Regions from separate parts of the Homo sapiens genome. Here regions 1, 2 and 3 are each linked to region 4. The links come from fine-mapping of genetic effects on gene expression. A gene starts in region 4. Each other region holds a variant in brackets. All regions are shown on one strand. Distances are between the middles of the regions.

Region 1 (5,171 bases), 99 kb before region 4:
CTCTTCACCCACACATCATCATCAACTCACCAGGGAGGCGGGGCCGGGACTGAGGCCGGGCCCGAGACTCAATAAAAAGCTGCTGGCCCTGGTGCTTCACCAGATGCACATCCTTACAGATCTGCTGGAAAGTCACCTGTGGGACACAGCACCACAGTGAGCAGAACCAGGGGGTGTCGCCAGTGTCAGGGGCCAAGGGCACAATAAAACAAGAAGGTACCAGTGGGGAGGCACAGACGCCTTGATGGGAGCAGGACAAGAAGGAAAAGGCAGGAAGGAGAGGGCAAAGGAGGATCGGGCAAGACTCTGGGACTGGCAGTGCTGGTTCCAAGAAGGAGAGGGGAAAGGGCGATTAGAGGGTGAGGTAGGAGCAGGTCACTCACTGGCGCAGGAGGCCCAGGCCCCTCTGCATCACCCCCGTTGCTATCACTGGAGGACCCAGGGCTGTGGAGAGGGCCTGGGGATGTCACGGCGCCGACTCCACAGAGTCCCGTGGGGCTGGGGCTGTGGACGGGCTGCAGCAGGGAGAGGGCAGGTTAGATGGCTTGACCCGGCTTCCCACACCTTTTCTCACCTCCCAGGCTCCCTCTCCGCTACTCTCACCTGCAGCAGCAGCCGGTGGATCTGCTCTGACAGCTCCTGGATATCAGTGTCCAGGGAGGGAGCTGGGCTGGGGGCCGGGGGAGTGAACACGTCCTCATTCAGGGGGGCCCTGTAGAGTGAAGAGTGAATCCAGCCCTGGCCCGGTCCTGTCCCCCACCGCACTGCCCTATCCCCAACGCCAGCTCGGGGGCATGGCCCACTTACGTGCGTACTTTGTGGCGGCCCAACACGAAGGCTACCTTGCGGCTCCAGGGGTGCACAAAGCCAGCCCAGCTGGTGTCCATGGTGACATACTCCCCGTTGCGGGCACAGAAGCGGATAGGGGAGTGGTCAAAGGGCTGGCCCGCCAACTGCAGAACTGATGGAAGTGGGAAAGGAGGAGCGGTCAAAGGGAGGGAGAGCTGAGTAAGAGGGAGGCCATGCCACTAGAGATCCAGGAGACCAAGGCACCAAGAGACACAACCACAAGGGCAGCCACTCAAAAGCCCAGGACAGTGGGAAGGGCGAGCAGGGCGAGAGGAACTCACTCTTCTTGTGGATAGCCAGCATGAGGGGTCGGTCCTCAGGATGCAGGAACAGGAGCACTGGGGCCCCCAGGAGGTCCTGGGGCAGGTAGCCCAGCAGGGGGGCAGCCCTGAACGGGAAGGAGGCATCAGAGTGGCCGTGGCCTCAGCCCTGGCTGCCCTCGTCTCCTCTAGGTCCTATCCTCACCTTTCATCCACATCCTGGAAGAGGCAGCTGGGTGTGTGCCGCGTAGTGAAAATCCTCTTGTCAGGGGGTATCCGGGGAGCTGAGGCACAGAGAGTGTGGTCACTGGGTTTCGTCCAGAATGCCCAACTCCTCAGCCCTCCACTCTGCCTGGGCCCAGGCTGGCTGATGATCTGCCACACAGCTCTGCCCCGGGCACTATGGGCCCAAAGATGGTCTGGGCCAATCCTATGCCCTGTATCAGTAACATGACTGAGAGCAAGCAAGGCATTCTTCTCTGCCCTCCTCTAGCTTGGGCACCTTATTCAACTCTACCTCTAAGAGGAGCTCAAATCCTCATCTTTACAATAGCTTTTCTTGTTCCAAAATTCAAAGGGTGTGGTTCATGCCTCCCAAATTCATGTCTGGCCATGAGGAAATGTCCTTCCTCCCAGCCCCCACCAGGCCAGGGCCCTGACCTGCCCACCTTCGTAACCCGAATGGATGCGCTCTGCAATCAGCAGGCAGCACGGCTGTGCAGGGGCCCCATCTGAGACCCGGATCTTGGTCACATACGGGGTTAGGCGGAATGGCTGGTACCGAGGCCCTGGATCCCGGTCAGGACCTCCTCTAGCAAAGGAGAGAGGAGCATTAGGGACTTTCAACAGAGAGCCACCCACTCCTCCAACAATAAGGTCACAGCAGACAACAGCAAAGACGCTGGGGAGGGGGCAGGAGGAGGCAGAGGTAGGCCGGGCACGGTGGCTCACGCCTTTAATCCCAGCACTTTGGGAGGCCAAGGCAGGCGGATCACCTGAGGTCAGGAGTTCGAGACCAGCCTGGCCAACATGGTGAAACCCCGTCTCTACTGAAAATACAAAAATTAGCTGGGCGTGGTGGCGCATGCCTGTAATCCCAGCTACTTGGGAGGCTGAGGCAG[G/A]AGAATCGCTTGAACCTGGGAGGCGGAGGTTGCAGTGAGCCGAGATCGTGCCACCGCAGTCCAGCCTGGGTGACAGAGTGAGACTCCCTTTCAAAAAGCAAAAACAAAAACAAAAACAAAAAAAAAAGGAGGCAGAGGTCTTCTCCAGTTCCCCTCACCTACCTGATACGGCAGAAGACGGACTTCTCCTGGGTAAAGTCCCTGAGGCCTGAACCTGGGACAGACAGGAGAGGAGTGAGCACAGCTTCCTGCCCCTTCCCTAGGCTGCGAAGAATCCACTAAGGGAAAGTCTGGGTTCCCCGGCCCCTCACAGCAGGAATTTCCTGGGACTGCTCATGCCTCCCCACAGCGCTTGGGCACCTCACCTGCTGAGGCCCCTGTGCCCCAGGTGGGCAGGCGAGATGGAGCAGTGGAACCATAGAAGACTCCCACATCCTGGGGAGCCAGGAGCTCAGAGAAGCGGGTACCCCGGAACACGTCCCGCTTGCAACGCAGCAGGACGGCTGCCTGCTCCGAAATGTAGACGATTCGGCCCGTCAGGAAGGAGACAGCCACTGAGAAGGTATCCTGGCAGGAGGGGGAGAGCAAGAGCAGATTCAAGAGCTGTGGGAGAAGGAGTAGGGGTGCGTCGGGATGCAGAGGCCAGGCCGCCGCTGACCTGGTTCTGAAGTGTGTACTCAGACGTGATGTGCTCCAGCTCCTCCAGGGTATAGGTGGACATGTCCATGGAGCAAGGCTCGCCCTCCTCCAGGCTCCACTGCTGGTAGTATTCCTGGTTGGCTGCAGAGTGGAGGCAGTGAGGCATTCAGTAAGGAGGCTGCCTCAACACGGGAGCCCAGGCCCAGGCCATTCCCTCTTGGGACACACCACTTACCCTGCACCTGCTTGACACAGGCCAGTGCGTACTGCAGCGTGGCCAGGGTCCCAGAGCGGCCCTTGCCCCGGCGCTCTGGCGGCAGTCGAAGCTTGAGCTCTCGAAGTGCTGTCATGAGTTCCTTCTGAGTCCTTGCCCGGGCTGACTGTTCACTGCTGCGGGGCCCACAGGGAAGAAAGAGATAAAGACATTAGTCCCAGAGTGTGGCCTGGGCCCCCAGACCTCTCCTCCAGCCTCACCCGACGTACCTGCAGCCACTGGTGGACGGGTTGTCCTGCTCTGAGCTGGCACTCAGGAGGCTGTAGGCAATGGAACTGCTGGGTGGGGATGGGCTCTGAGAGTTTGTGCTAGGAGACAGCAACAGGCCCAGTTACAGGTAGGGCCAGCAGTGCGAGGCCTGTCACCCAGCTCTGCCTGCTCACAAGACCATTCCTAGACCCAACATACACATCCATACACACCTCTTGCTGCTCTCAGTGGTCTCCAGCAGGGCTGAGTCCTTGCCGTTGCCTGAGGAGGAGCTGTGTGAGCTCCGCTGAGATGCGCCTCTAGACTCATGCCCGTTGGACTCATTGCCACTTGAACCATTGCTGTTGGCATCGGTGTCATCGGCCAGGCTGGGGCCTGGGCAAGGCCGGTGCTGTGGGGGCCCAGGGGATGGGACGCCCCCAGGACAAAATGATTCCCCAGGCCTGGGGTCCCCTCCCCCATCAGCCCCTTCTAGGGGGCCACTCATGTCTGGGCCATGGGGAGAACAGAACAGAGAAGGCAGAGAGGCCACCACGGATGCACGAGGGGGCCTGGAGGCTTGGCTGAGGGAGTGAGGTGGAAGATCTAAGTCTCTGAGGGTTGAGAAGTTCGATCACAGCCAGTACCTGGAGAGGGAGACCAGGAAGCAGGGCTTGCAGAAAGCTGGTTTAACTCCAGAGCACCTGCTGGCTTCACTCAGACCTTCCCCCTGCCTGGCCTCCTGCAGGACTGATGGGAGTGGAACCCAGGCCTGGGGCTTCCAATGGGGAGTCAGGATGTCTCCTGTACCCTTAGGGGGACTGCCAGCGGGAGAAGGTTCTCCGGGGCCTTCCTTCACATCCCCTGCCACCATGGCCTGAGCAGTCAATGAGAACCACGGCTGTAGACAAAAACCTGGACACTTCCCATTCCCAAGTTCCCATTAGGTGTCCACTCTGCCTGGGCCTCCAAGGCCTCGGAGCAGGAGGTGAGCTGGTCGCCTCCTATATTTAGGCCTCCAGGCTAATTTTATCCGGGGGCGGTGCCACCCCCGCTGCACATGCGCGCCGACGTGCGCGGCCCCACCACGCGCTTCCGCCGCCGCCACGGTCGCCAGGGAAACCGACGTCAGCTGCTGAGCTCAGCGGTTGCTGGAGGGACCACAGGAGGGCGGGAGGAGCGACCCCTCCCCCATTTCCCGGCGGAAGTGGGGGAACGGCCCACTCTCACACTGGTGGGCGCGGCCGGGGGGGTCACGCATCCCTTACATATCCCCAGTCCCAGGATGGCTCGGTGGCCGTAAGAAGTGGGACGGCCTATTAGGATCCCAGGGTTGGTCCTGGCTTCCCCAGGACGAAGCACAACGGCCACTGCCCTCGGCGCAAAAGCCCCTCAACCTGACTCTCGCCTGGATCCCAGTCATTCTGGTCAAGACAACACAACCTTTCCTTCTTTAGCCCCTGCGCTGCTTCCCCACCACAAGGACCGAAGCCGGCAACCTGCCATCGTCAAGGACCCGAGGATCCTCTCTCTTCAGTCCCCTACTTTTCTGGCCAGACCCCCCCACCAACCCCAAGCCTTGGGCAGAAGACACACAACAGCCAACAGATCTTTCTTCCCCTACTCCCCGTCCAACCACACCCCTACTACTGAGCATTTTCTGAGCGCCAGGGGAAAAGGGAAGGTTGTGGCCAACAGCAGGAACCAGCGCTGGGAACGGGATGTTCTAGTCCGAAGTGGGCTGACATCACAGGCGGCGCAGGGCCAGGGACTGGAGAACAGAGACACGGGGAGCGCTGAAAGCCTAATAGGGTCCTGGTACCGGGGCAAACCTGGGGC
Region 2 (5,171 bases), 30 kb before region 4:
AAACAAAATGTCATATATCCATAAAATAGAAACTTACTTAGTCCTAAGAGGAATGAAGTACTGATATTTTATTTCATGGAAACCATGAAAACAGTATAAACAAAAGAGGCTAAGCTGAGCACAGCAGCTCATGGCTGTAGTCCCAGCACTTTGGAAGGCTAAGGTGGGCAGATCCCTTGAGCCCAGAAGTTCCAGACCAGCCTGGGCAACATGGCGAAATCCCGTCTCTACAAAAAATACAAACATTAGCCAGGTGTGGTGGTGGGCACCTGTAGTCCCAGCTACTCAGGAGGCTGAGGCAGGAGAGCCGTTGAACCCAAGAGGCACAGGTTGCAGTGAGCCAAGATCGTGCCATTGCACTCCAGCCTGGGCAACAGAGCAAGACTCCGTCAAAAAAAAAAAAAAAAGATAGAAAGTTCACATATTATATGATTGCATTTACATGCGATATCCAGCATAATATCCAGCATAAGCAAATCCACTGGGACAGAAACAGATTAGTGGTTTCCAGAGACTAGGGGAAGGGAGAAGGGGGAATACAGAGTGAGTGCCAATGGTTTCTTTTTGGGGGGGGGGTGATTAAAATGTTCTGGAATTAAATAGTGATGATTGATGCACCACTGTGAGAATATACCAGAAACTCTTAATTGTACACTTTAAAATGGTTAAAATGGTAAAATTTATGTTAAGTATAATTTACCACAAAAAATTATAAAATATCTTTTTTTTTTTTGAGATGGAGTCTTGCTCTGTTTCCCAGACTGGAATGCAGTGGCATGATGATCTCAGCTCACCACAACCTCTGCCTCCTGCGTTCAAGTGATTCTCCTGCCTCAGCTTCCCAAGTAGGTGGGACTACAGGCGTGTGCCACCATGCCCAGCTAATTTTTGTATTTTTAGTAGAGATGGGGTTTCACCATGTTGGTCAGGCTGTTCTCGAACTCCTGACCTCGTGATCCGCCTGCTGCAGCCTCCCAAAGTGCTGGGATTACAGGCCTGAAGCCACCGCTCCCGGCTCTTTTTTATTTATTTATTATTATTATTATTTTGTCTTTTTTTTCTTCCTTTTTGTGGAGAACAGGGTCTCGCTATATTGCCCAAGCAGGTCTCGAACTCCTGGGCTCAAGCTATCCTCCCACCTCTGCCTCCATGAGAGCTGGGATTACAGGCATGAGCCACCACGCCCGGCCTTATTATTATTATTTTGAAATGGAGTTTCACTCTTGTTGCCCAGGCTGGAGTGCAGCAGTGCAATCTCAGTTCACTGCAACCTCTGCCTCCCCGGTTCAAGCGATTCTCTTGCCTCAGCTTCCCAAGTAGCTGGGATTACAGGCGCCCGCCACCATTCTGGCTAATTTTTTTTTTTTTTTTTTTTGAGACACAGTGTTGCTCTTGTCGCCCAGGCTGGAGTGCAATGGGGTGATCTTGGTTCACTGCAACCTCTGCCTCCCAGGATTACAGGCGTGGGCCACCATGCCTAGCTAATTTTTGTATTTTTAGTACAGACAGGGGTTTCCTCATTTTCACCAGGCTGGTCTCGAACTCCTGACCTCAGGTGATCCACCCACCTTGGCCTTCCAAAGTGCTGGGATTACAGGCGTGAGCCGCCACACCCATCCAGGAATACACTTTAAAGGCACTTGTGTGACTGCTATTAAATTAGTCAAATCTTAACACATTTTGCTATATTTGTTTATGATGTTTTTTTAAATGAACTAAAAGGCATACAGGTGGAGTTCCAGTGTAAAATTTCTTTTTTTTTTTTTTGAGACGGAGTGTCGCTCTGTCCCCCAGGGTGGAGTGCGGTGGCGCGATCTTAGCTCACTGCAAGCTCCGCCTCCCGGGTTCACGCCATTCTTCTGCCTCAGCCTCCCTAGTAGCTGGGACTACAGGCACCCGCCACCACGCCTGGCTATTTTTTTTTTTTTTTTTTGTATTTTTAGTAGAGACGAGGTTTCACCGTGTTAGCCAGAATGGTCTCGATCTCCTGACCTCGTGATCCACCCGTCTCGGCCTCCCAAAGTGCTAGGATTACAGGCATGAGCCACCAGGCCCGGTCAGTAAAATTTCAAGAAGTAGGCCGGGCGCTGTGGCTCATGCCTGAAATCCCAGCACTTTGGGAGGCCGAGGTGGGTGGATCACGAGGTCAGGAGATCGAGACCATCCTGGCTAAGACGGTGAAACCCCGTCTCTACTAAAAATACAAAAAAAAAATTAGCCGGGCGTGATAGCGGGTGCCTGTAGTCCCAGCTACTAGGGAGGCTGAGGCAGGAGAATGGCGTGAACCCAGGAGGC[G/C]GAGCTTGCAGTGAGCCGAGATCACGCCACTGCACTCCAGCCTAGGCGACAGACAGAGACTCCGTCTCAAAAAAAAAATATTTTCAAGAATTAGGTCTAGGTATATTGTTTCTCTACCATTTTCTTCTGTGGTTGTTATGGATGAAATTGTGTTTCTCCAAAATCCATATGATAAAGCTTTAACACCCAATGTAAATGTATTTCTAGACACAGCTTTAGGGAGGTAGTTAAGGTTAAATGAGGTCATTTGAGTGGAATCCTAATCCTACAGGGCTGGCATCCTTAGGAGAAGAGGGAGAGACTCCAGAGTTCTCTCTTTCCCTGTCGGCACAGAGGAAAGGCCATGTGAGGACACTGCAAGAAGGCGGCATGTAGAAGCCGGCAAGAGAGGCCTCAGCAGACACCAACCCTGATAACATCTTGATCTTGGACTTTGAGCCTCCAGAACAGTGAGAAAATAAATATCTGTTGTTTAAGCCACGCAGTCTACGGCATTTTGTTATGGTAGCCTGAGCAGACTAATACAGATTCTAAGGTCAGTGGAAAACTACAAGCGGAAGCACTCAGTTCAGATAGGACTACTAGTGGCTTAGACCCTTCAGGAACAAGGTTTGGGTCTCCCTACGAGGGAAATAACCAGGACCAGTTGAGGGGCTTGTTGAAGACAATGGGAAGACAAAATGGGTAATAGAAGAAGCTAGTTAGGCCAGGTGCGGTGGCTCATACCTTTATTCCCAGCATTTTAGGGGGCTGAGGCGGGAGGATCACCTGAGGTCAGGAGTTCGAGACCAGCCTGGCCAACATGATGAAACCCCGTCTCTACTAAAAATATAAAAAAAAGGCTGTGCACAGTGGGTCACGCCTGTAATCCCAGCACTTTGGGAGGCCGAGATGGGTGGATCACCTGCACTCTACTGCACTCCAACCTGAGTGACAGAGCGAGACTCCATCTCAAGAAAAAAAAAAAAAAAAAAGAAGCAGCAGCAGCAGCAGCAGCTAGTTATCAGCTACCACTACGTGGCCAGTTAGAGAAACAAGGACTGTAAGTGTATTTCCTTTTTTTTTTTTTTTTTGAGACGGAGCGTCAATCTGTCGCCCAGGTTGGAGTGTAATGGCATGATCTCAGCTCACTGCAACCTCCGCCTCCCAAGCTCAAGTGATTCTCCTGCCTTAGCCTCCTAAGTAGCTAGGATTACAGGCATGTGCCACCATGCCTGGTTAATTTTTTTTGTATTTTGAGTAGAGACGGGGTTTCACCATGTTGGCCAGGCTGGTCTCAAACTCCTGACCTCAGGTGATCTGCCCACCTCGGCATCCCAAAGTGCTGGGATTACGGGCGTGAGCCACCACACCTGGCTGTATTTCTTCTTTATTTTGTTACGAATATATCTGTGTGTGTGTTTCAGCTAATAAATGTACACAAAATGATAGAATTAGGAAATGATCATTTTGCATCTCCTTATGAAATAATTAATGCAGGCAAGGTTTTCTGGTTGCCCTGGCAGTGAGAATGGTGGTGGGACTGCTTGGTAGCCAGCCTCACAGCCAGCTCCGCCTTAGGTCGCCAGAGTTTCTATGCTGTTACCTTGCTCAGGTCATCAGCAGTTCTTCAAGCACCATTTCTGCAAGGACTGGTCAACTGTCTGCCTTTGTCTTGTACATAGTGATACAGTGACACAGAGACAGCTATGGCAGAAGGTGGGCAGGGGCAAGAAAGGGGAAGGAAAGCGGAGCACAGATTTTAACCTGGGCAATGTCTGCTGTGTGGATGGTGGTGAGATGGCCCAAATTCTTCCCCATCAACCAAAGCCAGTCACACTTAGAAAGGTATTGTTAGTGGAGGAGAGAGAGGTGAAGGGAATAAATTTCCCATTGGAAAAGACAAGGCATATAGGGTGGGTGGCCTGGATTTCTTTCTTTCTTTTTCTTTTTCTTTCTTTCTTTTTTTTTTTTTTTTTTTGAGAGAGAGTGTCCCTCTGTCGCCAGGCTGGAGTGTAGTGGTGCCAATCTCCGCTCACTGCAACCTCTGCCTCCGGGGTTCAAGCGATTCTCCTGCCTCAGCCTCCCAAGTAGCTGGGACTACAGGCATGCGCCACCACGCCCAGCTGATTTTTGTAGTTTTTAGTAGAGACGGGGTTTCACCAAGTTGGCCAGGATGGTCTTGATCTCTTGACTTCGTGATCTGCCCGCCTGGGCCTCCCTAAGTGCTGGGATTACAGGCGTGAGCCATCCCATCCCACCGGTTTTGTTTTTCAATATACTGGAAGCAGCCAAAATGCACGTGGTCCTGGGCTTCTAGTGACTGCTGGGAAGTCTGGAGAAAGGTAATATTTGTATTTAATATCCTTGTGTTCAGTGTTAAGTAAACATACCTAGAACAGCAGAGATTATTAAAAACATTTAAAAAGGCCGGGCACAGTGGCTCACGCCACTAAAATACAAAATTATCCGGGCGTGGTGGTGCATGCCTGTAATCCCAGCTACTCGGGACGCTGAGGCAGGAGAATCCCTTTGAACCCGTGGGCGGAGGTTGCGGTGAGCCGCGATAGTGCCATTGCATTCCAGCCTGGGCAACAAGAGAGAAACTCCGTCTCAAGGGAAAAAAAAATACAAACAAAAAATAATAATTTAAAAAATTATTTAACAATTTCCATACAACAGGGAATTTTTTTATTTTTAAATTTATTTTTACTTTTATAGACCTTAGGGATACATGCGCAGTTTTGCCACAGGGATATATCACATAATGTTGAAAGTCTGCACCCAACTTCTGAATAACGTTCATATTTGTCTCATTCCCCTCCTATCCTTCTACTGAGGAGGCTTTTTTTTTTTCCTATCCTGAAAAATGTCACCGTAGGTCTATTTGATTAGGG
Region 3 (5,152 bases), 44 kb before region 4:
GCCTGTAATCCCAGCACTTTGGGAGACCCAGACGGGTGGATCACTGGAGGTCAGGAGTTTGAGACCAGCCTGGCCAACATGGTGAAACCCATCTCTACTAAAAATACAAAAATTATCTGGGCGTGGTGGCACATGCCTGTAATCCCAGCTACTCGGGAGGCTGAGGCAGGAGAATCGCTTGATCCTGGGAGGTGGAGGTTGCAGTGAGCTGAGATTGTGCCACTGCACTCCAGCATGAGTGACAAAGCAAAACTCCGTCTCAAAAAATAAAAAATAAATAAGCACCCCGCCCATTTCTTTCTCCCTAGAGATAGCCAGTTCCAAGTCTTTTCACTGTTTTATTTTGATTTGCTTTGGGTATTTACCATACTTTTTTTTTTCTTGAGGCGGAGTATCACTTTGTCGCCAGGCTGGAGTGCAGTGGCTTGACCTCGGCTCACTGCAACCTCTGTCTCCCGGGTTCAAGAGATTCTCCTGCCTCAGCCTCCCTAGTAGCTGGGACTACAGGCACACACCACCATGCCCAGCTAATTTTTGTATTTTTAGTAGAAGCAGGGTTTGACCATGTTGGCCAGGATGGTCTTGATCTCTTGACCTCGTGATCCGCCCGCCTTGGCCTCCTAAAGTGCTGGGATTACAGGCATGGCCTACTGAGCCTGGCCTACCATACATTTTTTTTAAGTTGTTAAACAACAGTCACGTATATTTTATTTTTATTTTTTTAATTTTTACGTTCTCAGGGTGTACAAGTACAGATTTCTTTTTTTTTTTTTCAAAAGGAGTCTTGCTCTTGTTGCCCAGGCTGGAGTGCAATGGCGTGATCTCAGCTCATTGCAACCTCTGCCTTCCGGATTTAAGCAATTCTCCTGCCTCAGACTCCCAAGTAGCTGCGATTACAGGCGTGCACCACCACACCCGGCTAATTTTGTATTTTTTTAGTAGAGACAGAGTTTCACCATGTTGGTCAGGCTGGTCTCGAACTCCTGACCTCAGGTGATCCACCTGCCTTGGCTTCCCAAAGTGTTGGGATTACAGGCCTGAGCCACCACGCCCAGCCCCTACCATACGTTTTTAAATCACATGCTTCCGTTGCTGCTTCTTAAGTTTTCAGTTTTAGGCATGACCTGTTTTTTTCCTGCTATAAAATTCAAGGAATTCACTCTTCCACCCCACTGCCACCATAATTTTGGTTAGATTTATTCATTTGACAGTAGTTACTGAGTGTCCTCTACATTCCGGGTACTGTTCTAGAGGCTTGGTGTAAAGCAATGAATTAAGAAAAAAAAAAAAAAATCAATCAATCCTGCCAGGCGCAGTGGCTCACGCCTGTAATCCCAGCACTTTGGGAGGCCGAGGTGGGCAGATTGCTTGAGGTCGGGAGTTCAAGACCAGCCTGGCCAACACAGTGAAACCCCGACCCGGTCTCCACTAAAAATACAAAAATTAGCCAGGAGTGGTGGCACATGTCTGTAATACCAACTACACGGGAGGCTGAAGCAGGAGAATCACTTGAGCCCGGGAGGCGGAGGCTGCAGTGAGCTGAGATCACACCACTGCACTCTGGCCTGGGCGACAGAGCAAGACTCTGTTTCAAAAAAAAAAAAAAAAACTTGTCCAGGCGTGGTACGCCTGTAATCCCAGCACTTTGGGAGGCCGAGGAGGGTGGATCACCTGAGGTGAGGAGTCCGAGAGCAGCCTGGCCAACATGGTGAAACCCCATCTCTACTAAAACTACAAAAAAATTAGCCAGGCTTGGTGGCGTGCGCCTGTAATCCCAGCTACTTGGCTGGCTGAGGCAGGAGAATAGCTTGAACCTGAAAGGAGGTTGGAGGTTGCGGTGAGCCAAGATCGGGCCACTGCACTCCAGCCTGCATGACAGGGTGAGACTCCGTCCTGCTGTGTAGCCAGGCTGGAGTGCATTGGTGCGATCTGGTCTTGCTGCAGCCTCCACCTCCCGGGTTCAACCGATTCTCCTGCCTCAGCTTCCTGAGTAGCTGGGACTACAGGTGTGCACCACCACGCTCAGCTAATTTTTGTATTTTTAGTAGAGATGGGATTTCACCATGTTGGCCAGGATGGTCTCGATCTCCTGACTTTGTGATCTGCCTGCCTCGGCCTCTGAAAGTGCAGGGATTACAGGCATGAGTCACTGCGCCCAGACTTAACTGTTTTTTTGTTTTTGTTTTTTTTTTTAAAGACTCTGAGTAAACTATGAGTAGAATAGGCCCTGTTTAACCTGATAAAGGGTATCTATCAAAAACCTACAGCAAGCATCATGCATAACAGTGTAACCTCATGTCAGGAACAAGACAGAATCACTGCTGCTTCTATTGGCTCCTGTACTAGATCCTGACCAGAGCAGTGAAATAATCAAAGACAGCTTCTAGGGTACAGAACTGTTTAGTTGCTCCTACGTTGGCAAAGGGGCAGAGAATGAAACAGAAAAGGAAAAACTAGAAGTTGGACAACCAAGAGAGAGGTGAAAGAAGGTGGCCAGAGATGGCTGGTGTTCCAATGTAGCAATGGGGAGCCAGGGCCCCCAGTGCCCCTGGGCTGTGGGAGTCTGAGCAACGGAAAGAATAGACAGTGAGGGTAGAGGTGGAAGTGGGGGTAGGGGTTGGGGTGGCTGGGAGCTGACCAGGTGGGTGTCAGAGCTGAGAGGGTAGGGTGTTACCAGGGATAGCAAAGTAATGCTCATCCCGGCTCCTCAGGGTGAGCCAGCTCTCCTTCTAGGGAACAGCTTCCTCCACAGCAAAGCCTCCACCTAGAAACATCTACACTCATGAGTACAAAAAGCTTCAGCCTTTATTAAACAAAGGAGGAGGTAGAAAACAGATAAGGGAACAGTTAGGGATCCCTTCTTTCCCCTATACATACACAGACATACAAACACACGCACCCGAGTGAATGACAGGGACCATCAGGCGACAGATTGAAGGGCAGAGGGAGGCAGCACCCTCCGAGAGTTGGCCCGGACCCAAGGGTGGGCTGAGACCTGGGCCAGGGGCAGCCGTTCCGAGGGGTTATGCCTGAGCAGTTTGGAGATGAGGTCCTGGGCTCCC[A/G]TGGGCACGGAAGCGGGGAACTTTAGGTCCACCTGCAGGTGTGAAGAGATGGAAGGGCTGCATTAGTTTCACCCTGGCTACATCTTCCTTGACTACCCATTCTGTTTGGAGTTACTTAGGGCCATGCAAATACACTCTGCCCACCCCCAGCCCCCCAGCTCCTGGCTTCAGCAGCTGGCACGAAGCCCAGGCCGCCCTCCCACCTTGACGATGCGGCGATAGGTCTCGTTGTGTGATGCACTCTCAAAGGGTGGGTTCCCCACCAGCAGCTCATAGCAAAGCACTCCAATGCACCACAGATCCACCTTCTCATTGTGCATGCGCCCCTCAATCATCTCTGGGGGCAGGTAGTCCAGGGTGCCACACATTGTCTTCCTCCTGGGAGGGATAAGGGGCGTGGGCAGGGGTCCTAGTGACATAGGAACTCTCCTTTCCCTGCTGCCTGACGGCTGGGAGCCAAAAGACCACGGGATGTACCAGGGGAGAGGTCCAGCCAGGCAAGGCCACTGGAGTGGGGGTGGGGTTGGGGTGATGATATATCCCAAAGCCCCAGAGGTGAGCCTGCACACAGCCCAGCAACTCCACACTGAAGGATATATCTTAATAAGATACCCTGATATGAGGGCAGTGTTCATTTGGAGTTCACTGGGGACATCTCTAATGCCCATCAGGCATGTTCTGGTTAAATAAATCAGCTACTATGTGATACTATGAAACCATTAAAAAGTGATGTGGGAGGAAAAAAGGCCACTGCTCCGGGCTTTTTTTGAGAGAGTCCAGGCTGGAGTGCAGTGGGGCGATCTTGGCTCACTGCAACCTCTGCCTCCCGGGTTCAAGTGATTCTCATGTCTCAGCCTCCCGAACAGCTGGGATTACAAGTGTGCACCACCATGTCTGCTTAATAAATTTTGTGTTTTTAGTAAAGATGGGGTTTCATCATGTTGGCCAGGCTGGTCCGCTGGTCTTGAACTCCTGGCCTCAAGTGATCCACCCGCCTTGGCCTCCCAAAGTGCTGGGACTGGTAGGCGTGAGCCACCGCGCCTGGCCAAAGTTTTACCATTGGCCCCTACAGGGATCAAACCTGCGACCTTGGGGTTATTAGCACCACACTCTAACCATTTTTTTTTTTTTTTTTTGAGACAGAGTCTCGATCTGTCACACAGGCTGGAGTGCAATGGCGTAATCTCGGCTCACTGCAACCTCCGCCTCCCAGGTTCAAACAATTCTCCTGCCTCAGCCTCCCCAGTAGCTGGGATTACTGGCGTCCGCCACCATGGCCGGCTAATTTTTGTATATTTAGTAGAGACAAGGTTTCATCATGTTGGCAAATCTAGTCTCGAACTCCTGACCTCAGGTGATCCGCCCTCCTCGGCCTCCCAAAGTGCTGGGATTACAGGTGTGAGCCACGGTGCACGGCCCCTGGAGAGGTTTTAATGGCCCAGCCTCACACCCAGGTCTGGCCTCCCAGGCCACCATACCTCAGGGAGGGCGCATGCACAGACCAGCCGAAGTCAGCAATCTTCAGCTCTCCCTTGAGCCCTAAGAGCAGATTTTCTGGCTTTATGTCTCTGTGAATCACCTTCTTCCCATGGCAGTACATTAGAGCATCTGCCAACTCCTCCATGATCTGGGAGGGGCAACGACAGGCAATCAGACAAGGATGGACCTCCAGCTACAAGCAGCACACCCTCAGCCTCGAGCCCCCTACTGGCGCCCCAGGTGCCCACCCGCCCGGACCGTGGCTGTTCGCTGCTCGTCAAATGTGCAGCTCTTCTGCAGCTCCTTGTAGAGCTCCCCGCGGGGGGCATACTCTAGAATCAAGTAGATCCTCCTCCGGTCATAAAAATAGTTGTAGAGACGCAGGATGTTGGGATGGCTGGGGGAAGAGACAGAGGAGGCCTCAGGCCAAAGGCATAAAAGAGCTGGAAAAGATGATAGGAGCAAACTGGGGTCAGACGTGGCCCAGGCCGGGGACACCAGGGCTGGGAGTGGTAAGGGGAAACTGGAGGCAGATTTCTGGATTCAAGGCTTGCCAGGACTAAGAGCTAAATGGGGCTCACTAGCCATAGCTACAGAGAAAGCAATCTGGA
Region 4 (5,145 bases):
TAGCCTGGCGTGGTAGCACATGCCAGTAGTCCCAGCTACTTGGGAGGCTGAGGTGGGAGGATCACCTTAGCCTGGGAAGGTTGAGACCCGCCTGGGCAACATGGTGAAACTCTAAAACAATTCAAAATTAGCTGGGTTAGCCTGGCGTGGTAGCACACGCCAGTAGTCCCAGCTACTTGGGAGGCTGAGGTGGGAGGATCGCTTGAGCCCAGGGAGGTTGAGGCTGCAGTGAGCCATGATGGTGCCACTGCACTCTAGCCTGGGTGACAGAGTAAGACCTTGTTTCAAAAAAAAAAAAAAAAAAAAAAAGGAGGGAGGAAGAGGAAGATCCAGATTAATACAGGCTGAAGTTTAAGAACACAATATGCTTTCCCACAATTATCTCAACCACTGCATGGGTTTAACAGCCATGGCCAGATGATGATTGTTCCTGTATGTCTACTTTAGCTGAGATCTCATTCCTGAGCTTTAGTCCTATCCATCTGCCAGACTCTCCATGGCCAATCCACAGGCAGCACACATGCCCAACACTGAACTTTCCACAAAACCCTGTCCTTTTCTAGAACTCTTCTAGTGTTATGTTCACTAACTTAGCAAATAGTACCCTTAACCAAACAGTTGTTCTATCCTGAAACCTAGATGTCCTCCTTAGCTCCTTCCTTTCCCTACATAGGTCCCAGTCCTGGCTGGGTGCAGTGGCTCACGCCTGTAATCCCAGCAGTTTCGGAGGCCAAGGCGGGCAGATCACGACGTCAGGAGATCGAGACCATCCTGGCTAACATGGTGAAACACCGTCTGTACTTAAAAAAAAGAAAAAAAATACAAAAATGAGCTGGGCATGGCGGCGCGTGCCTGTATGCCTGTAATTCCAGCTACTCGGGAGGCTGAGGCAGAAGAATCGCTTGAACCTGGGAGGCAGAGGTTGCAGTGAGCCGAGATCGCGTCACTGCACTCCAGCCTGGTGACAAAGCTAGACTCCGTCTCAAAACACACACACACACACACGCACACAAACCAATCCTTTAGATTGTATTTTCTTAACATCTTATTTATTTATTTATTTATTTATTTATTTATTTATTTATTTATTTGAGATGGAGTCTGGCTCTGTCGTCCAGGCTAGAGTGCAGTGGCGCGATCTCGGCTCACTGCAACCTCCACTTCCGTGGTTCCCTGCTCAGCTTCCTGAGCAGCTGGGATTACCGGCGTGTGCCACCACACCCAATTACCCTCATGTTAAAGTCGCTGCTTAGCAAGAGGTACAAAACTGTCAGCTCTGACCCCTCCACCACCACCCAACTGAACTTTTGAGTTTTTCAGACACCTGCTCTATCCTCCTGCCTTTGAATATGTGTTTGCTTCCGTCCTGAAACCCCTTCCGGCGCTTTTTTTTTTTTTTTTTTTTTTTTGACAGAGTCTCGCTCTGTTGCCCAGGCTGGAGTGCTGTGGCACAATCTCAGCTCACTGCAGCCTCCGTCTACCCGGTTCAAGCGATTCTCCTGCCTCAACCTTCTGAGTAGCTGGAATTACAGGTGCGCGCCACCACGCCCGGCTAATTTTTGTATTTTTAGTAGAGATGAGGTTTCACCATGTTGGTCAGGCTGGTCTCGAACTCCTGACCTCAAGTAATCCGCCCGCCTCCGCCTCCCACAGTGCTGGATTACAAGCGTGAGCCACCACACCCAGCCCCTTTCGGCGCTTTTTGCCTTCTACACGCACTTCGGGTCTCAGACGCTTTTACTTATTATGGTTGCCCTTTTCCCCTACAGCTCCGTCAAGGGTCTTCTCCAGGAACCCACAGCCCCATAGTTCCCCCATTAACCTGCTCCTGGTTTCCCACCAGGATTAAACCCTAGAGAGTGAACGGAGACCAGTTTAAGGCTCACAGCGGGCGCCGCGTGAATGAGGGAATAAACATTCGCAGAACCAGTAAGAGGTAGGAGCGGACCGACTCACAACCCCCTCACCCATGGGCCGGACGCGGCCAGCGAGCCCAGAGAGACAAGGCAGAGGAAATAGGAAGAGAAAGAGTATCTGTGACAAACAAGAAAAAAGGAACAAGAGACGTAATAGCAGCACTCACGGAGGAAGGGACCTGGGCCCGGCCAGCCGCCATGATGCGCCGGAGCTCCGCCCCCGGGAGGGGCAGGTGCTCGCTTGGGGGTGGGGATGGGGGTGGGGGGGCGCTCGGTGACGTCACCGGTGAGCGGGTTTCCTCGCCACCTCCAGCTCCTTCTCGCTGCTCACCCCCTCGCTTCCTAGAGACTCCGCGAGGCGCCTCGGTGCACCATCCCAACTCCCGACACCCCTGTCTCTTTTCTCTGATTTTTTTTTTTTTAAGACGAAGCCTGGTTCTGTCGCCCAGGCTGGAGTGCAGTGGCGCGATCTCGGCTCACTGCAACCCCCGCCTCCCAGGTTCAAGGGATTTTCCGGCCTCAGCCTCCTGAGTAGCTAGGATTACAGGCACCTGCCACCACCACGCCCGGCTAATTTTTTTTTTTTTTTTTTTTTTTGTATTTTTAGTAGAGACGGGGTTTCACCATGTGGCCAGGCTGGTCTCAAACTCCTGACCTCAGGTGATCCACCCGCCTCAGCCTCCCAAAGTGCTGGGATTACAGGCGTGAAACACAGCCCCTGGCCCTCTCTGATTTTTTTGAGACGAGGTCTCGCTCTATCGCCCAGGCTGGAGTGCAGCGGCGCCATCTCGGTTCACTGCAGCCTCGACCTCCCGGGCTCAAGCGATCCTCCCACCTCAGCCCACCAAGTAGCTGGGATCGCAGGCTTGCACCGCCACACCCGGCTAATTTTTGTATTTTTCTGTAGCGACATGGTTTCGCCATGTTGCCCAGACTGGTCTCGAACTCCTGGGCTCAAGCGATCTGCCCGCCTCGGGCTCCCAAAGTGCTCGGATTACAGGCGGGAGCCACCGCGCCCAGCCTCCGTCTCCCTCCTAAGTGACATCCTGTCCGGCATCCCGCAGGCCTTCAGATGGATGGGGTAGCAGAGCTCAGGAACTCAAACACAGCCCGCCTGGTGGATGACTTCTAAGCATCTTTCAGTCTCCCTGATCTTGCCAAGCAGAGAAGGGCTTCCTCGTAATGCCACCAAAGCACAACTTTCACATGCTTGCTTTATGGCCTTAACTAACTGATGTCATTACTTAACTGTCCCCGCGGGGACGGGGAACTGAATGTATTTTCACAAACGTCAGTTCAAGACAGATTTGTGGGAGAAACCACCTGGGGATAAACCTCTCCCCACCAAGAACCTAGAATTCGGCCGGGTGGCTGGGGAAAAGTGGGCGGGGCGTAGTCGCCCCGGCGCTGGCAGGTCCAGTCTCTGCCCGCGGCGCACGCGGATGACGTAACAAACGCGCGCGACGATTCGAGGTGCTCTGTGGCCGCGAGTGCATCTTCCACGTGAGTATAGTTACCGCGTGCGGACCTGGATCCTCCTCCAGGTGCAGCGTTTCGTCATCTAGCCCAAGCTTGGTCTGGCGGCTTCAGTATCCCCACCGGGCCGAGCTGTGTCTACTTGGTGCCCGCGTATTTGCTTTAGTGGAGGCGTCCATTCGTCCTATCTTGCGTGCGTTCCGCAGACCCCAGGCATGGCCGACCCCCATGTAAATTTAGCCCCATTGTCCCATTCATGGATTCAGCTAACAGAAAGACTGCCGGCCGCCTACTTTATATCAGGCACCATGCTGGTCATGGAATACAGCCCTCATGCACGCAAACCCTGTCTCTGAGCTCTTGAAGCTTATATTTTACTGGGAATGATAGACGGAAATCAAGTGGCTTAATAAACAAAATGCCTTCAGGAAGACTGTCCTGAAAGTTGGGGAGGGGCTGAAGAGTGGTGAGAATCAAGAGTTCATTAAGTCATTCCACAAGTTTTAGAATTTTTTTGCGTTTCAAGCCCTGGTATTGTTCTAAGCCTTGGTAATTCAATGGAAACGAAGCAGCAACATCCCATGCCCACGTAGAGATTTTTTTTCTAGTGGGGAATATAGAGCGAAAAATAAAAACATCCAATAGTGATAAGCGCTTTACAGGAAATTAAAATAGGGCCGGCCATCTGATAGTAACTACTTGAGTGGCTAGTGAAGCCTTTTCCACGAAGGCGAATCACCAGAAATCTAAATAACAAGAGCTAGCCATGCATATGTCAGGGTGAAAAAAATGCCTTCCAGGACTGAGCTTGGCAAGTTAGAGAAATAAAAAAGAAGCTAATGTGTGGTTGGTGCATTGTGGGTGAAAAAGAGAATGGTGTGAGATAGGGTTGGAAAGGTAGGCCAGAGAGTGGCCAGACTTGGTAAACCAGGATGCTGAGTTGGAATTTATACCATGTGTAATGGGAAGCCATAATCCACTTTATGCTGATGTGTGACAAATGAATTGTGGTTATGCAGTGGTCAGGAGGTTAATGCATTGGTCCAGGTGAGTGATGGTGGTGGCTTACTTGAACTAGAGTGAGGTAGTAGAGATGAAGAGATGAGAGATTTGAGACATGATTGGAAATAGATTTCCTGGTGGATTGGATTTAGAGAGTCTGAGGGAAAGAGAATTAAGGATGACTTCTGTGTTTTTGTCTTGAGCAACAAATTGGATGATGGTAGTGTTTACTGAGTGGCAAGACTAGGGGAACAGCAGAGTTTGGTGAGTAAAGCCAGGGTCCCGCTGAGAGGCAGTGGGACCAGAAATTGGATAGGTAGTTTGGGATAGATGGGGAGGGCCTTTGAATGTTAGGCTAAAAGTATTAACTGTAATAGTTCTGTTGCCTGATGCACACTGGAGGTCAATACACCAAGACACCAGGTTGCAGCAGAGAAAGAGGTTTAATCATAGGGCTGCTGAACAAGGAGACAGGAGGAAACCTCAAATCCATCTCCCAGAGTACTTTGGGGCTAGGGTTTTTAAAAAAGAGTTTGGAATAGGATTAGGATGAAGTGTGAAAATCATTGATTGAAGAGTGCAGGGTGAGGTCATGAAACAGGGAGATGAAGAAACTGATTCTCATGCTCACTTGGTTCCACTGTGGGAGTCTTTTTTTTTTTTTATTTTTTTTAATTTGAAAGATGAGGTCTGCCTGGCGCAGTCGCTCACGCCTATAATCCCAGCACTTTGGGAGGCTGAGGTGGGTGGA

What was found. PIP is the estimated chance that this variant, and not a neighbour inherited with it, causes the effect. A credible set is the group of variants that fine-mapping cannot tell apart.
Region 1: its variant is the best candidate, but not a certain one, in a credible set for the expression of CTC1 in whole blood (INTERVAL, PIP 0.90).
Region 2: its variant is the best candidate, but not a certain one, in a credible set for the expression of CTC1 in whole blood (TOPMed, PIP 0.70).
Region 3: its variant is the best candidate, but not a certain one, in a credible set for the expression of CTC1 in spleen (GTEx, PIP 0.52).

The regions. Positions count from the first base shown.
Region 1 is chr17:8,146,867-8,152,037 of GRCh38, forward strand. PER1 (period circadian regulator 1) reads right to left here. Exons shown (of 23, transcript NM_002616.3): 2 at 3,566-3,979; 3 at 3,353-3,451; 4 at 3,105-3,259; 5 at 2,889-3,010; 6 at 2,596-2,797; 7 at 2,393-2,444; 8 at 1,778-1,920; 9 at 1,315-1,393; 10 at 1,131-1,237; 11 at 808-961; 12 at 604-712; 13 at 384-515; 14 at 31-136. The coding sequence starts at 3,840. Among named protein-coding and RNA genes, the nearest start is that of PER1, 3.0 kb to the right of the region's middle. RefSeq lists enhancers at 3,045-3,692, 4,162-4,271 and a silencer at 4,432-4,531. The variant G/A (reference allele first, on the strand shown) is at 2,231.
Region 2 is chr17:8,215,682-8,220,852 of GRCh38, forward strand. LINC00324 (long intergenic non-protein coding RNA 324) reads right to left here. Exons shown (of 3, transcript NR_026951.1): 3 at 4,949-5,171. Among named protein-coding and RNA genes, the nearest start is that of TRW-CCA1-1, 2.7 kb to the right of the region's middle. RefSeq lists an enhancer at 5,017-5,171. The variant G/C (reference allele first, on the strand shown) is at 2,296.
Region 3 is chr17:8,201,951-8,207,102 of GRCh38, forward strand. It overlaps AURKB (aurora kinase B), which reads right to left. Exons shown (of 9, transcript NM_004217.4): 6 at 4,800-4,938; 7 at 4,541-4,689; 8 at 3,266-3,440; 9 at 2,784-3,094. The coding sequence ends at 2,921. Among named protein-coding and RNA genes, the nearest start is that of AURKB, 6.0 kb to the right of the region's middle. RefSeq lists an enhancer at 1,749-2,249. The variant A/G (reference allele first, on the strand shown) is at 3,063.
Region 4 is chr17:8,245,921-8,251,065 of GRCh38, forward strand. CTC1 (CST telomere replication complex component 1) reads right to left here and starts at 2,136. Exons shown (of 23, transcript NM_025099.6): 1 at 2,084-2,136. The coding sequence starts at 2,116. PFAS (phosphoribosylformylglycinamidine synthase) reads left to right here and starts at 3,369. Exons shown (of 28, transcript NM_012393.3): 1 at 3,369-3,419. RefSeq lists enhancers at 1,933-2,072, 2,553-2,672, 2,797-3,553 and a silencer at 2,163-2,212.